2 separate regions of the Homo sapiens genome follow, and region 2 is linked to region 1. The links come from fine-mapping of genetic effects on gene expression. A gene starts in region 1. The other region holds a variant in brackets. All regions are shown on one strand. Distances are between the middles of the regions.

Region 1 (2,910 bases):
ATTTTTTTAAAGCATTTTATTTTCATTTCTTATTGCACGCAACATTTCTAGGCATCTGACTCCTTGTGAGCAGGGAGAAAATGTGGAGAAAGAGAGGGAGTACACAAAGCCAAGTTTCATTATGGTCTCTAACTTTAGAATTGACCTTAAAAAGGGAGACAGACATGTAAACTGATCACTGAAATGTCCAAAAATCAACTCATGATTCTCAGCATCTCCACAGTTTTTCTTTCCATTTCCCCTTTACCAGTAGCACTACCAAATACCTAGGTTTGCTCAGTCCCCCATGAGGCAGTCGTCCTTGAATCCTTCCTTTCCCTTGCCCCAAACATCAACCCATAAACAAAGCCTGTTGGTTGATCCTACTCCGTCAATATCCCAATTCTGTCTACATTTCATCTCCTGTTATTGTTCTAGTCCAGGCCATCATCACCACTTGTCAACTTCCAAAGCCTGATGTGCCTCACTGCTTCCACCATAGCTTCTGTCCAAAGCATTCTCCATACAGAATCGAGTGACCTTTTTAAAACTTAGGGAAGTCACTTAACCTCCCTAAATTTTAGTTCCCTCAACTGTAAAATGGGGATTATAATAGTGCCTACCCTCCTCTGATTGCAGTGCAGATTAAATGAGATAATAACCAGCACCTGGTGTTTGGCTTATAATAGGTGTTCAATAAACGTCATTATCCTGAGCCAATTCCTCCTCCTCCTCCTCCCAACTCTCCTTGATTCAGCCACAATGGCCTTCACCTTTTCCTCCAACGTGTCACAATCTTTTTGCCTAAAATATTCCTCCCCTCCCCCATCCCTTCCCTGCCCCCACTGGCTTTTCACGGGCGTGGCCCCTTATTTAAACCTAGGGCCGGGCGCAGTGGCGTAGGCCTGTAATCCCAGCACTTTGAGAGGCCGAGGCAGGAGGATCTCTTGAACCCAGGAGTTCGAGACCAGCCTGGGCAACATAGTGAGACCCTGTCTCTAAAAACAAAACAAAAAACTTCTCAGCCTAAATTCTCACAAGACCTTCATCTTATCAACCTGTTTATTTCCTTTTCAGTGTTCGCCAGGATGCGAAAGCACTGTCTATGATTGCCCCTGTGCTCTTTGCCTCTACCCTCTTACACGTAAAACCATCACACCTGGAGGGAAAAGGTTCCTCGAAGTGAAGTCAGCTCCGGAAGTGGGGGGGCAGGGGCGATGCAGTCTGGGAGTTGTAGTCAAAGCTGCTCCGAAGCCACGCAGCCGAAGAGGCGGTCGTTCTATGCAACATTCCTGTGAAAATTACCCAGCTGTGACTGTCGAAGGGAAAAAGTCACACTTACCTATATCCGGGATCCCACGCCGGAGCTCCAGACACACAAGGGGGACAGCAGAGAGGAAGAAAATGCCAACAACCCCACGTGAAGCCATGGTGGCGGAAGCGCCTGGTGCAGGCGGAAAGCCCGCCCCTTCCGGCCGCGTTTTCCGGGAAGGAAGTGGAACTCTTCTTGCCGCGGGCCGGCTGGGAGAGGGTCAATAACGTGGTAAATACTGACGGCCGTGTCGTTATTGAGGGGGAGCTAAGCCCCGTGTTTTAAAGTTATAGTCTGTAGCCGTGTTTCAGAAGAAAGGCAAGTCGTCCCCCAAGTCACATGATGTCCAGAGGAGCCTGGGCTCTAGAGCGGTGGCTCCCTGGAGGGTAGCAGGGCAGGGGCTGCCCCTTCGGTCTTTGCAGCGTCTGTGAGAAAGCGCTTTCCAGAGGGAAATGAAGCCGAAGAAAAAGCTGATGCTGTGAGGAGGCAGCCTGGGCCCCCCGGCCTTGTGGCCGTATAGGATGAATGTGGGCTATAACACCTTCCTTATCTCCCTAACGGTTCCTGGTTCCTGGCCCCGTCCGCAGTCTCTGGTTCCTGCGGAAAGACAACTCGAAAGTGGGGCCTGGCTCCAAATACCTGCCCCCTAACACGCACGTCCTAATGCCAGGTCCTGGAGACCCGCTACCCCTTGTTCCGCCCCTTTTCAGTTTTGCCTGCACGCGTTATTGTTAACCTTGACTTCATAGTTCCATGACCTCATTGCCGTCCTATAACTCACCACTGTGCACTTCTCCCAAGCTACTGAGGTCCTCCCAATCTACAACATTTCGTACTTGGAAATTATCTTTCCTGGCCAGGCGCGGTGGCTCACGCCTGTAATCTCAGCACTTTGGGAGGCCGAGGCGGGCGGATCACAAGGTCAGGAGTTCCAGACCAGCCTGGCAAATATGGTGAAACCCCGTCTCTACTAAAAATACAAAAATTAGCCGGGTGTGGTGGCGGTCGCCTGTAATTCCAGCTATTCGGGAGGCTGAGGCAGGAGAATTGCTTGAACCCGCATGCGGAGGTTGCTTTGAGCCGAGTTTGCACCACTGCACTCCAGCCTGGGCGACAGAATGAGACCCCGTCTCAAAAAAAAAAAAAAAAGAAAGAAAGAAATTATATTTCCTGGCTAAGCGCGGTGGCTCACGCCTGTAATCCCAACACTTTGCAAGAAAAAAGAAAATTCTTTTTCCTGACCCATCCATCTAGCATCCCACCTGACTATTCAGTTTAGTTCATCTGAAATTTATTGAGCTCCACAGTTTGGTACTCTACAACTCTTGGATATTCAAATATTTACAAGTTACTGAATTTGTCCTCAAGAAACTCAGCTTATCCGACTTTGTGGTTCTATGGAGAAGAAAAAAAAAAACTGGGAAAGATAGCCCTGTAAGCAAATAAACATAATGCAGTTCCTGAGTGCTATGATAGAGATATACACAGGGTGTTGCAGAACCATACCCAGAAGGCTTGCAAAAGGCTTTCCAAAAGGAAGTCACGCCTACGTTGTGTTCAAAGGTTAGGAATCTGGGCAAGGATGTCCGGGAAGGGTGGGATTTCAAGTTTAGGAACCT
Region 2 (2,910 bases), 26 kb after region 1:
CCTTACTATGTTTCTCAGGCCGGTCTCTAACTCGTGGGCTCAAGCAGTCCTCCCACCTCACCTCCCAAAGTTTTGGGATTACAGCGTGAGCCACCACACCCAGCCGCAAGTTCACTATTGAACACAGTTGATGTTCTTGGCAGGCGCAATTGCAGATTAACCAAGTTCTTGTTTTACTGCCAACATGGGCAATGTGAAGTTTCTACCTGGCTAGGCAGGATTGAAGGTAACGAGGCAGGCCCTAGGAAAAATGGTGAAGCTTCTGAATTTTGCCACCTGTTATCACCAGATAACAGGCGGCCCACTGATCGGGATTCTGAACACTAGATTGATGCCAGCAGGCCCACTGATCGGGGTTCTGAACACTAGATTGGTTGGAAAAGGAAGCTCTCAGGAATGGATCATCGGTTTGGAAAGGGAGGCTGAGTTACAGGAGTCTCCTTGATGATGTATTTACTGAACAGCCTGTGAAATTTTGTTTCTTAGCTGGGTGTGGTGGCTCACGCCTGTTATCCCAGCACTTTGGGAGGCTGAAGTGGGTGGATCACTTGAGGCCAGGAGTTTGAGACCAGCCTGGTCAACATGGTGAAACCCCATCTCTCCTAAAAATTCAAAAATTGGCCAGGCGCGGTGGCTCAGGCCAGTAATCCCAGCACTTTGGGAGGCCGAGGTGGGCGGATCATGAGGTCAGTAGATCGACACCATCCTGGCTAACACGGTGAAACTCCGTCTCTACTAAAAATACATAAAAAAAAAAAAATTTATCCAGGTGTGGTAGTACACACCTGTTGTCCCAGCTACTCGGGAGGCTGAGGCAGGAGAATTGCTTGAACCCAGGAGGCAGAGGTTGCAGTGAGCCGAGATCGCACCACTGCACTTCAGCCTGATGACAGAGTGAGACCTCGTCTCAAAAAAAAAAAAAAAAAAAAATTTAAAAATTAGCTGGGCGTGGTGGCGGGCACCTGTAATCCCAGGTACTCGGGAGGCTGAAGCTGGAGAATTGCTTGAACTCAGGAGGCAGAGGTTGTGATGAACCGAGATGGCACCACTGGACTCCAGCTGGGCAACAAGAGTGAGACTCCATCTCAAAACAAAACAAAGCAAAAAAAAAAAACAAAACACCTTAGCAGGGCATAGTGGTGCGTGCCTATAATCTCAGCTACTCGGGAAGCTAAGAATCACTGGAACCTGGGAGGCAGAAGTTGCAGTGAGCTGAGATTGTGTCACTGCACACTCCAGTCTGGGCGACAGAGTGAGACTCTGTCTCAAAAAGAAAAAAAGAAACTTGTTTCTTATCCCTCATTAATGCCCACCTGGAGAACCGGGGAATCTGCCAGTGTTGTATGCTGAGGGTCTTAGCAATGTGCAACTCTGGGCAACCAGAGCCCTGAGAACTCATCTGATAATGCTCCAGTCTGGGAGGCAAACTTCCTTTGTGATCAGCTGATGTGTTTTAGGTAGGAAGGCCCCTGGGGAATTTATCTCCGCCTTTCCGTATGCCTTGTGTGCGTGTGGGGAGCCAGCAGACGCAGAAATAATTCAGAGGTATCAGAGTCACCATCACATCTATCATAGATTAGAAATAGATGCTTTATATACCTTATCTCTGACCTGCTCAAAATCTCCATAATGGAAGCATTCTTCCCTTAACTGAGCTAGGAGAAATTTGGAAACTCA[C/G]CCACCTCTAGCCACTAAATGGGAGAGCTGAGAGTCAAACTCCTATCTGTCTGACTTGAGGCCTGTGCTCCCTCTAACAACCTGATGCACAGGTCAGCTAGAGCAGCAGTCCCCAGCCTTTTTGGCACCAGGAACCAGTTTTGTGGAAGACAATTTTTCCACGGACCAGCAGTGGGGTATGGTTTCAGGATGATTCAGGATTCAAGTGAATCACATTTATTTATTTATTTATTTATTTATTTATTTTTATTTTTTTGAGACAGAATTTCACTCTTGTTGCCCAGGCTGGAGTGCAATGGCATGATCTCGGCTCACTGCAGCCTCTGCCTCCTGGGTTCAAGCGATTCTCCTGCCTCAGCCTTCCAAGTAGCTGGGATTACAGGCACCCACCACCACACCTGGCTAATTTTTGTATTTTTATTAGAGACGGAGGTTTCACCATGTTGGCCAGGCTGGTCTTGAACTCCTGACCTCAGGTAATTGCCCGCCTCGGCCTCCCAAAGTGCTGCAATTACAGGCTTGCGGCACCACGCCCAGCCTGCATCACATTTATTGTGCACTTTATTTCTATTATTATTATGTTGTAATATATAATGAAATAATTATGCAACTCACCATAAACTAGACTCCGACGGAGCCCTGAGCTTGTTTTCCTGCAACTAGTTGGTCCCATCTGGGGCTGATGGGAGACAGTGACAGATCATCAGCAATTAGATTCTCATAAGGAGTGTGCAACCTACATCCCTTGCATGCACAGTTCACAATAGGGTTCACGCTCCTATGAGAATCTAATGCCGCCACTGATCTGAAAGGAAGTGGGTGGAGCTCAGGCAGTAATGCTAGCGACGGGGAGCAGCTATAAATACATATGAAGCTTCGCTCACTTGCCCGCCACTCACCTCCTGCTGCAGCCTGGTTCCTAATAGGCACCTGGCGGTCAGGGAGCCCTGAGCTAGAGAAAGGGGAAAGAAGGCTGAGTGCGGTGGCTCATGCTTGTAATTCCAACTTTTGGGAGGCTAACGTGAGAGGACTGCTTCAGCCCAGCATTTTGAGACCAGCCTGCGCAACATAGTAAGACCCTGTCTCTAATGTGTTTGTTTGTTTGTTTCCTTTTTCTTTTGAGATAGAGTTTCGCTCTTGTTGCCCAGGCTGGAGTGCAATGGCACGATCTCCGCTCACGGCAACCTCCACCTCCTGGGTTCAAGCGATTCTCCTGCCTCAGCCTCCCAAGTA

Direction of the effects. Positions count from the first base shown, and alleles are read on the strand shown. Sizes are in standard deviations (SD) of each study's normalised expression.
With allele C in place of G in region 2, the expression in cerebellum of the gene that starts at base 1,435 in region 1 is higher (moderate effect, 0.52 SD a copy in GTEx).

The links. PIP is the estimated chance that this variant, and not a neighbour inherited with it, causes the effect.
Region 2: its variant is the best candidate, but not a certain one, in a credible set for the expression of UBXN8 in cerebellum (GTEx, PIP 0.87).

What each region holds. Positions count from the first base shown.
Region 1 is chr8:30,742,689-30,745,598 of GRCh38, reverse strand. UBXN8 (UBX domain protein 8) reads right to left here and starts at 1,435. Exons shown (of 8, transcript NM_005671.4): 1 at 1,322-1,435. The coding sequence starts at 1,409. It overlaps LOC105379356 (a long non-coding RNA gene), which reads right to left. Exons shown (of 2, transcript XR_005646967.2): 2 at 1,527-1,888. It overlaps LOC105379355 (a long non-coding RNA gene), which reads left to right and starts at 1,922. Exons shown (of 2, transcript XR_949634.2): 1 at 1,922-2,854. RefSeq lists enhancers at 1,467-1,546, 784-1,752, 1,787-1,926.
Region 2 is chr8:30,717,125-30,720,034 of GRCh38, reverse strand. All of the region lies in intron 1 of GSR (glutathione-disulfide reductase), which reads left to right. Among named protein-coding and RNA genes, the nearest start is that of GSR, 9.3 kb to the left of the region's middle. The variant C/G (reference allele first, on the strand shown) is at 1,678.